2 separate regions of the Homo sapiens genome follow, and region 2 is linked to region 1. Evidence: fine-mapped expression QTL. A gene starts in region 1. The other region holds a variant in brackets. All regions are shown on one strand. Distances are from middle to middle.

Region 1 (5,376 bases):
GCCTCGTCTAAGTAACTTTCTGCAATTTTCCTGTGAAAAAGTTCAGGTTTTCCCTTGCAATGGGCTAGCCTCTGGATGTGTTCCCTGGAAGTGCTACCTGTCTCATCTCAGTTACAAAAGCAAGGCATTGGGGAGAGGGAGTGAGATCCCTTTTACCTCTATATTTACTTTTTCACATTTTTGGGGTCAATTTGTAAATACTGTGCCTTTTAAAAAATGCATTACCTTCTTATTTTTCAAATCCCAAGTCTACCATCAGAGAAGAATACTGTAATCACGGCTAGGGTGCTGAAGGTGTGGAAAAATCTGTGAAAGTGTCAGGGAGCAAGTGTCCTGCGTGGCGCTCTGTTCTTGGTGCATCTGCAGGTAGCAGACCTTTCTCTCTCTGCAAACCCTCAGCTCTAGCCTGCACACGGTTGTGAGGGTATTGAAAGGTGTCCCCTTACCATCAGCAATGATGCAAAGTTACACAGCAAAGGAACCTCCCAGAACTGTGAATTGGACATGATAGGGACGCCCGGTGCTGAGCTTAGTTTTAGATCGTTTAAAATGTAAGGGTTCTTTGCAACCCTGGATGGTTTCACCATCAAAGTGTGTGAGTGGCTGGGGGCTGGAAGGTAGATTCAGATTTCTTTCCAGGACTTTTCTTTTTAGGATCTGTTTAGATTTGTTTAGGGTTTATAGGATAAAAGAAAAGGAACTCTCCCCAAAGAAGAAAAGATACTCTGTACTTCCCACATAAAGTCTAATTTTGCAAGTTTCTCCTTTTACATTCCTTGGACTCTTCTGCCATATTCTTGGTGAAACAGCACAAAAGTTTAAGATTTCTCTGCAGTCTGCCACGAAAATAACTGGGCACCATCTAGTTATTAATACATTTGAGGGGCAAAGCTCTACACCTGTATTTTTCTCTGGGTGCCTGAAACTCAACCATTCCTTTGGGCTATGGTGACAGTAGCACTTGTCGAGGATGCTGTAAAGAGACACAGTTACTTCTGGGAGCTGTGGCAGAGCCAAGCACTGAAACGTGAGGGACCTGGGTCAGCCTCCAATTCCCAGCACCTCACAGGGAGAGGACAGGACATGAAGCAGCAAAGGCAGGAGGCAAACAGTACTGATCACACATCTCTGCCAAGTGCAGAGCTATTCCTGTGGGCTCCGTTTGTCTGCAAACACTGATAAGAAGTTAAACTGAAACTAGACCACTTAAAACGTTTTAAAAATCTCACATTTGTTATTTTTGGTAGGTGGCTATGCTTGGGAAAGAAATTGCGAACAGGAATTTTCAGAAAACATAAACATCAAACATCCATCTCCCCTTCACAGGTAGGAGTTAGCCATTGTAGGTATCTGCACACACCCCCGCAATGTTCCTAGTGTGGCAAAGGGCTCTGGGCTTTGGTGGCAGAGGACCTGGCTGGGGAAACTCCCTTGCCTCTGACTTTTCTTGGGTGAATCCCTTAACCTGCATTTCACTTGCCGCGTCCTAGGAAGGAGACGTTACCTGCTTCACAGGTGTGCCCGAGAGTGACGGGAGATGGCACAGGTGAAGGTTTGTGGCACAGGTAAACAGTAAGTGCAGGTGTCCTCGCTGCTTTGCAGGCGGCGTGGAGTCATGTCCTGTGGCTCCCATTAGCCCCGGCATCCCTACCCCATCCCCATTTGTAAACTGTCTCCGAGGACTGACTTTCCTGTGCACAGCTGTGCTCTGTTCAGAGAAAACAGATTTGTGTGAACACCTTCTGCCTCTGATCTAACACCTTTGGAAAGAGGGTCTCTCTATACCAACGTGGGAATGTGATTGTGCCTCCCTGAGAAACTTCCCCTGGTCCCTTTGGGGCTGATTTCTGCTGATTGGGTGGGGGGCGTTCAGCATCGCTCCCTTGGGCTTCCACCCAGGGGCGCTAGCAGCTCTCATCTCTCACACCTGTCTAGTGCATGGCACCTCCTGCTTAAATTAGGGCAGATACATTTACCCTTCATAAGTCAGTCCCAGCCACAAGCTTACCCGAGAGTGGACTTCCCTCCGCAGCGAAACGCTCAGGGAGGCCGGCGCAGCTTCAGGGCCAGGAGGGCGGCCCCGTGCACGTCCCCATGAACTTGTGGCTGCTCCGGGGTCTCGGCTCCTGCTTCTCCGGTATTGTTCCTAAGTGGGCTGTGATATTCCCTCTCTATGGAAACGGTCCCCTCCCCTGTGTGTATATAAAAGTGACAGATCACAGGGTGGATCGTAATTCCAGACGTGGTGTCTACGCTGGGATGAGATTTCATTTAAAATACAACCAGAACCAGCCGTCCACGTCATGCAGACGACAGGTGCTCCAACCTCGACCCCTCCCACCTCTGCTTCCCACCCCGCCCTTCTACCCCCCAACTCCTTTTGCATCCTAGCAACTTGCTTCATTGATAAAAGCAAAGAACAAAAAAGAAAAAGAAGAAATAAAAACTCAAAACAAAACAAAACAAAAATCCTGGTAAAGTGAGAAGCAGTGTCTTTGAAGAATTTTATTGCTGATCTTAGTTCTAACTAATTTCAGTTTCCCCCACATTCCCCTTGCCCTAACTCTCCTTCTGTAAATGTAGAGCCTGGACCTGCTTTGAAAGCAGAGAAGGGGTTTAAAATCCACCTGTTGCCGTGTTGTTTTGTGGGTTCTGACCGTGCAGCGTCATCTGGCCGCACACGTAGCCCCTTGTGCTTGTCACACACTCGGTGCCTACTCCCCACATAAAGTCTAATTATGCAAGTTTCTCCTTTCACATTCCTTGGGCTCTTCTGCCGTACCCTCAGTGAAACAACACGAAAGTTTAAGATTTCTCTGCAGCCTGCCGCGAAAATGACTGAGCACCATCTATTTGTTAATACGTTTGAGGGGAAAGCTCTACACCTGCATTTTTCTCTGGATACCTGAAACTCAACCATTCCTTTGGGCTATGACAGCAGGTCATCATACACCAGAGGTCTGGAGGTTTTAGTGGGAAATGGCTTGGATTTTACTCGTTTATGCATCCTATATTTATTGAGGACTTACTGTGTACCAGGTATTGCCAAGACACCCACGAGTTCAGAGATAAGTAAGTTGTGGCCCCTAACCATACAGGGCCTCATGGTTTAGAAAGGTAGGGAAGGCTGGGTGCGGTGGCTTATGCCAGTAATCCCAGCACTGTGGGAGGCCGAGGCGGGCAGATCACGAGGTCAGGAGTTCAAGACTAGCCTGGCCAACATGGTGAAACCCCGGCTCTACTAAGAATACAAAAAAAATTAGCCGGGCATGGTGGCGAGTGCCTGTAATTCCAACTACTCAGGAGGCCAAGGCAAGAGAATCACTTGAACCTGGGAGGTGGGGGTTGCAGTGAGCTGAGATGGCGCCATTGCACTCCAGCCTGGGCAACAGAGTGAGACTCCATCTCAAAAGAAAGAAAGAAAGAAAGGTAGGTAAAAAATGCTACAGAAGAGAGCAGTCCTGTCTACTCAAGACAGGAGAGGAGAGCAGGAGGGGTTTCAGACAGAAAGGATGGATCAGCATGGACTGAGCCAGGGCTGAGAGGAACGGGAGAGAAGGAGGACGATGGGAGGGAGGTGTTGGTGGGTGCAGAGGCTGCTCTGCACTAAGGTGCTCCAAAGGCCTGCGGAGTTGGGAGTTTATTCCATATGTAATGGGGAGATGTGGGAGACTACGGTCTGTTGACCCCTTATTCACAGATGAGGAAGCTGAGGCTGTAAAAAGTGACCTGCTGGGACCCCACAGGCCCAGGGTGACAGAGTCAGGTGAGAACCAGGCCTGACGCTGGGCTCAGTGCTCCTTTCACTGGGCTGAGCTGATGACAAGGGGCCCTGCAAGACCGGCTGGCTGTCCCTAGCCCTCCTCCCAGACGGCTGCTCCACTCTCGTGAATTCCTGCAGGTGAAGAGGTAAGAGGTCTTCTGAAATTACCAAAACTCTTTAAAGCCCATGAGCATTTGGAGGAACAAATGGAAAGCTGTTGTGGGGAAGGACTTCAAGACTCTGTACTCCCCATTTTAAGTCTCTTTATGGAGATAGGAAATTGGACCTCCCTCTCTTCCTTCTTTCAGAGCTGCCTGGGCTAGGATCCTCTTGAGATTGGAGGCAACATGAAACTGAATCTGTGTTTCAATTCAAATTCATTACTTCATTCATTCATTCATTAGTTCATTCATTCATTCATTCATTAGTTCATTCCTTCATTAGTTCCTTCATTCATTCATTTGTTCTAGTTTTTGTGAGGTTTTTGTTCTGCTTTCCATTTCAGATAATGATGCAGTAATGGAATTTATGCAGGTTGAGGGGTAGATTTCCACCTGAGTTTAACTCTCCTGTCTGCCTTATGGGCTCTGAGATGCCAGGGATCTGGCAACGTTGGTCTCCCAGGGCAGGGTTTCCCATCCTCAGCACTGTTGACATTTTGGGTGAGGTAATTCCTTGTTGGCCTTGGGGTCTGCCCTGAGCTCTGGAGGAATTTAGCAGCATCCTGGGCATCTACCCATTAGATGCCAGTAGCACTCCCCTCTTTGTCTGTGACCATCAAAAATGTTTCCAGACATGTCCTCTGGGGGCATGAGGACCACTTCCCTACAGTATGGGGTTTAGAAAGAGAGACGATGAACCCTGGCTTCTTTTCTTACCTTGTTTCCTCTGAACTTCCTAGAAATCCTCCTACCCTGAGGCCACCTCGCTGGGACTGAAGGGTCTTGGTGTTGGTGGCTGTTCTTGGAGCCTGCCGTCCCTTCGTCACACAGAGCAGGCTCATCGGCTCCCACTGGTCCATCCTGGGTGGGCTTTGGCATTGTCCAGTGACTTCTGCTAGCCTGGATGGAGTTCCACACAGAATGTTTCATGGACATGAGCAGCTGTAAGGGTGCAGTCCAGGGTGTAGTTTTCTAGAAATGTCAAGAAATAGTACATTTGCTTTACAACTTGAATGACGCATCTGGTGGGGGACTGAACAGAGGCTTGGGCAGCAAGAAGATGATGAGTAGCAAAACCTCTGGAGTGTCATTTCTAGCAAACAACGATTTCCCTCCCTCCCCATGGCTGATGTGTGAATGTGGCGTGTTTCTACACTTGCACTTCTCTCTGGCCTTTGTGAGTCATTGGTATCTTCCGTGGACTCAGCATGAGCATGTTGTTCAGGGATGTAAATGTCCTGTAGAGGGTACAAAGAGGGCCAGGGTGAGAAGAAAAAGCTGATCAGCTTCTCAGGTGAATAGAAATGGCTCATATTTATAAAGCTCATTTCTCCAAAGTGCTCAAAGCACTTACACTTAATAACATAATTATTTCCTCAACATCTGAGCATGGCGGTAAAATAAAGATAGACGAGAGAATTAGCAAAGTGTGAGAGAGCTTGACTTATAGGA
Region 2 (5,376 bases), 37 kb after region 1:
AGGTGAGTTCAGCGTGCCCAGCCTGCTCCCTGTGTCTTGCTTCAGCTTTCTGTGTGTTGCTGACAGGGCTATGGCGGTGGGAGAATGGGAGGGTCGGCTGACTTATTCCACTTCCATGCTGAATTTCCTTTCCCCACAGCTTCTCTTGCTCTCCCCTGCCCTCGCTTTTCCCCGCTGCCATTGACATAATTGGGGATGGGGCTGGGTGGAGTTAGAGGAAGGGGAAGGGGGTTGGGTTACCTTGACAATGAGGGGGTTGAGAAAAAGAGTCCAGATTGAACTTATTAAGGGAGTAAATTAATGATACAAGATACCCAGGCTCATTTTCTGAAACTCTTAATCAGCCTCCCCCACCTCCGACCTCAAGGGTCTCCCAGGCCTTACACAGATAGTTAGTTGACAAAGGGTCTAATGCTATTGACTGCTGGTGATCATAGAAAAAAATTTGTTTTTACCTTGAAGAACTTTACCTTTCCTATCTTGAAGAACTGGTTTGCTCTTGGAAGAGCAAACCGGTTTTCCAGATGATTATAATTTTGTTAACACAATTTTTTTCTTTTGCCTTGATCTTCAGGAAGCCTCAAGCTGAGTTTGATGCCCAAATTCAAATATCATGGAAGCAATTATATTAGTCATGTAAACCTTTTTCCTTTTTAATTCTAACATTTTGTTTTTGGATTTCAGATTCGGTAGCATTATGCCATACTTTAAAAAATGACACCTTTAAAAAACATTTCTGGAATATGCTGAAGTATAGATGGTCAATGAAACAAATTTTGTTAGCCAGACTTGTCTGTTTCCATTTCCAGGCCCAAATCACACGGAGAAACTCACGGAAGATGAGTGGAACGAAGTGTGTTAGTTCGTTAGGACTCTGCCATAACAAAATACCAGGTAGTTTAAACAACAGAAATCACTTTTTTTTTTTTTTTTCACAGTTCTGGGGTCTGGAAGTCCCAGGTGCCAGCAGAGTGGGTTTCTCTCAAGACCTCTCTCCTTGGCTTGCTGGGTCCTCACGTGGCCTTTCCTCTGCACATGCACCTCTGGTGTCGCTTTCTTTCTTAGAAGGACACCAGTCTTACTGGATTAGGACCCACTCTTATGATCTCATTTAACCTTCATTACCCCTTTAAAAGCTCTGTCTTCAAATAGATATGGTCTATTTCAAATAGATACGATCTATTTCAAGTAGATACGGTCACATTGGAGGTTAGGGCTTCAGTGTATGAATTTTGGGAGGACACGACTCAGTCTATAACATCAGGTCTAACTGAATTCTTATGAAATAATTAAAAGGGCCAATAAATAGAAAACCATCCAGGGGCCATGATTTTGCTTTCTGCATGGCCAGGAACGAGGTATGGGCTGGTTGAAGGAATCTGCCCACTGTCTGACTCTCCCACTGCCAGACTACCTGCAGAAAGAGAGGGCTGTCTGTCCCAGGAGCTCTTCCTAGTCTTCTCATTTTTGTATGGTTGTGCTTCTCAACAATTCTCCTTCAACAAAGCTTTATCCGTGGAACTTACAGCTCATCCAACCAACCACCCTCTACATTGGCTTGGAATCCAGCAGCAGGTGCCATGTTTTGGCTGTGCAACCTCAGGACTTCCTGCCTTGCCATGCACTTGAGCAGGAGTTTTTGCCAGCTCCCTGCTTTGATGTCTCTGAGATGAGAAGCTTGGAGTATAGTGCTATGATTTGGATATTTGACCCTCCAAATCTCATGTTGAAATTTGATCCCCAAGTTTGGAGGTGAGGCCTAGGGGGAGGTGTTTGGGCCATGAGGGTGAATGCTCATGAACAGCTTGGTGCTGTCCTCCTTATGGTAATGAGTTCTCACTCGATTCGTTCATGGGAGAGCTGGTTGTTTAAAAGAGCCTGGAAACTCCTCTTTTCGCTCTTGCTTCCTTTCTGGCCATGTGACCTGTGGACACAATGGCTCTCTTTGCCATCTGCCATGAGTGGAAGCAGCCTGAGGCCCTCACAAGGTGCAGATGTTGGCACCATACTTCCTGTACAGCCTGCAGAACATGAGCCAAATAAGCCTATTTTCCTTATAAATTATCCAGCCTCTGGTATTCCTTTATAACAATGTGAATGGTCTCAGTGTTGGACTCAGTGTTGGAGTCAAGGGGATGCTGAATTGCACTTGGTGTTGGAGTCAGATCACAAGTCTACTGGCTCCCTGGCCTGTGCAGAGCCGAGGCCATTCAGGGCTGGTGCTGATGGGGACGCTGCAGCTTTTTCCCTCTTCTGGTCTTGCTGTAAAAGCTACACCTCGCTTGACTTGTACAGGGGACCAGACATACATTTCTTCTCTTCTCTCTAGAGCATGGGGCGATGACGCAGAATTCACTCCTGAGTTCTGGAAGTGCCGTATCCTCAGTATAACCTTTGTAGCATTTGGCATGGAGGAACCCTCTATGAACTCATGTTATCAAAGTGATTGCGAGCATGAAAGGGGCACCCCCTAAACATTTTCTAAGCGAACCCTCTGCTCTGGGTACTGTGAGAGGTTCTAGGGTTATAGTGATGAGTGGGAAACCAACTTGCCCTGCAAAACTCACATGACAGACATGGTGTTAGATACTTAAGCAGATGCTTACCATAAAGCTTCATAGAACAATGACAGAGATACACACGAGGGCTGGGAGGGCTGGGAGGGCTGGGAGGC[C/G]CCCCCCTGGCTAAACCAGACCATGGTGCAGGACTCAAGTGTGGCAGGACTGCAGAAGAGGCTTTCTTTACAGAGGGGTAATGAAAGAAATGAGGATCAATAGGATGTCACGGAGCCGTCTCTGAGAGTGTGCTGGAGAGGATCAGCCCTTGGGACACCAGTGAACATGTAGATATATCCTGGCATTTCTGAATGCTTCTGAGTGACGACCCAACTCAGGAGTCAGAGGCAGGGACCCTGGGGAAGTCTGCAGAGCCACCTCTTCTCTGCCTGGGCTATCAGCTTTCTGAACGATACAGTCGGCTGCTGGGCTTGGATGGTGGAGTGGGCCTTCATCACTGGTTGCTGCCAACGTCTTTTTATATTCTCCCTAGATGTTGGTTGTTTCCCATATCATGAGTCAGCAGGTCTTTTCCCATATTAGGAATCCTGCTTTCTCAGGGCAGATTCCATAAAGCTCACATGAAGGTGGAGGCATGTAACTTAGGATCCGCCACATGGATGCACGCCACACCCACCCTGTGAGACATGGATTGGGAAGTGGGCATCCCAGGAAGGCAGCTGCGCATCAGGGCAGGGGATCTCCTGGGAGCACAGGGCGTGTTGTGCAGCTGTGCCAGGTGGCAATGGTGGGACTCCAGGCACTGGGACCTTGCCATGCAGGTGAGCTTTCCTGTTGCTGTTGCAAGAAAATGTTCCAAAGAGCTAAGAGAGACGTGTAGAGGACATCTAAGCTGCCTGGTAAACAGTCAGTGGCAGATTTCTAACTGAACCCAGCAGCGGCCAGAAGAGCCATTTGCCTAAGTCACTGACCCCCAGAATTGTGACAGAAGTTGCCCCACGGTGCGATCGAGCATTGTTCCTGGAGGCCTAGAGTAGAGGCTAGCTCTGTGGACCATCATGATTCTCCTACTTACCATCCTTAAGTAAATTCCTTTTCAGTTTAAACTCTTGTGTTAGTCCATTTTGCATTGCTACAAGGGAATACCTGAGGCTGGGTAATTTATAAAGAAAAGAGGTTTATTTGGCTCCTGGTTCTGCAGGCTCAGGAAGCATTTCCTCACGGCAGGAGGCGGAGGGGGAGCAGGTGTGTCACATGGCGAGAGAGGGAGCAAAGGAGAGGGGAGGAGGAGGTGCCAGAGTCTTTTAAACAACCAGCTCACAGGAACTAACAGAGTGAGAACTCACTCATTACCTCGGGGAGGGCACCAGGCCACTCATGAGGGATCCAACCCCATGACCCAAACATCTCCCACTAGGCCCCACCTTCAACACTGGAGATCCCATTCCAACATGACACTTGAATGGTACAAGTATCCAAACCAAATCCGCTATCCAGAGTTTGCAACCAAGAACCTTGACCAACATCTTGGTAAAAGACACAGCAAAAGAAAACAGATGAAACCCACAGAGTCCTGCATCTCATCCTTCATGCCAACCCCCAGAGTAGCCTGGGTGGTGCAGTGGCCTCAGTGAAGGTCACTGAGCTCATAAGGAATCCTATCCTAGCTGTGGAGTTTGGCCAAAATACGGATGGAAGTGGGCTAGAAGGAGGTGGAGACTGAGATTTTAGAGAAAGATGACTAAGGACCCCACGGCTGTCTGAGTGAGCACTAATTCAGGGTCACATGGGCTGTCCTCAGTTGAGATAGAAGAAACTGAGAGACAGGAAATACTGAGATTCGGTAGTGAACCTGGACAGAAAGAGGAGGGAGACAGGTAGCCAAAGGCTGAGGCCAAAGGAAGCCAGGGATGTGCTGGAGTGGAGGCTGGGGAACAGCTTCAGGCTGGTGGCTCTGGGAGGCCTGGAAACTGAAATCATCGCCTCTGCTCTATAATGTCTCTGGGGGAGGCAGGAATTGATTTCCCTGTGGGGCTGTGGTTTCGAGTGCAGGCAGGAAGAAAGGCAGCTCTGGACACCGTCTTGTTCTCCCTTCTGGGATGACCACACGAACTTACGCAGTCTTTGCTCTGCCTCACTGGTTTCTGCTTCCCCTGTCCTTGGCCCCCACCTTCTCTGCTGTCACAATGTGGACAGGAGACAAGGTCTTCAATTCTATTAAGCGCAGCACAATGATTTATCTGTGTTCTCTGCATTTGAAATCAAATCAGAGTCAAATCTGATCACTGAGGAACAGAGAAACTCATTTAAGCCAAGGGCTTTGCTGGTCATCTCCATCAAAGGGGGAAGGAAAGGGCTCTGGTTCAGTTAGCCTGGGGAGGGGATGAGGTCGTGTGAGGTGGATTTATAATTGAGCCTACAGTAAAACTCGGAGGGGGCTGGGACAGCTTCCCCTTCCCACCCACATGCAGGCTGGCAAACAGCACTCCTGTGTTAGGTCCCTGGAGCACCTGTGCCTCTGTCTTGTGTCCCCTGTCTTGAGTCTTGGGAGGAGGCAGTGCCCGTTCCTCAGCGAAGAGCACAGTTCAAACCCTTCCTCCCACTGCACTGTCGCGGAGTCTGCAATCACAGTGGCAGAGGCTTTCTGCTTTGAGGCTTGTCAGCCTTCAGGAAACTCAGATTTAGCTCCAAATGCCATGGAAAGAGGAATTTCTTCAACCATTAGAGGCAGGGGGCTTGGTCAAGCCAGAAGGCAATGGAACAAAGCACAGGTTGGGAGAGGAAGGGAGAGGCGTGGATCAGGGGCTAAGAATCAACCAAACACCAATCAGGCCAGTTTCCAGTCTTGTCCAGGGCTGGC

Alleles and levels. Positions count from the first base shown, and alleles are read on the strand shown. Sizes are in standard deviations (SD) of each study's normalised expression.
For the expression in sigmoid colon of the gene that starts at base 2,273 in region 1, allele G in region 2 goes with a lower level than allele C (moderate effect, 0.57 SD a copy in GTEx).

Evidence for each region. PIP is the estimated chance that this variant, and not a neighbour inherited with it, causes the effect.
Region 2: its variant is the best candidate, but not a certain one, in a credible set for the expression of UCN3 in sigmoid colon (GTEx, PIP 0.57).

Annotation. Positions count from the first base shown.
Region 1 is chr10:5,361,863-5,367,238 of GRCh38, reverse strand. It overlaps UCN3 (urocortin 3), which reads right to left and starts at 2,273. Exons shown (of 2, transcript NM_053049.4): 1 at 2,009-2,273.
Region 2 is chr10:5,324,482-5,329,857 of GRCh38, reverse strand. No RefSeq gene overlaps it. Among named protein-coding and RNA genes, the nearest start is that of UCN3, 38 kb to the left of the region's middle. The variant C/G (reference allele first, on the strand shown) is at 2,675.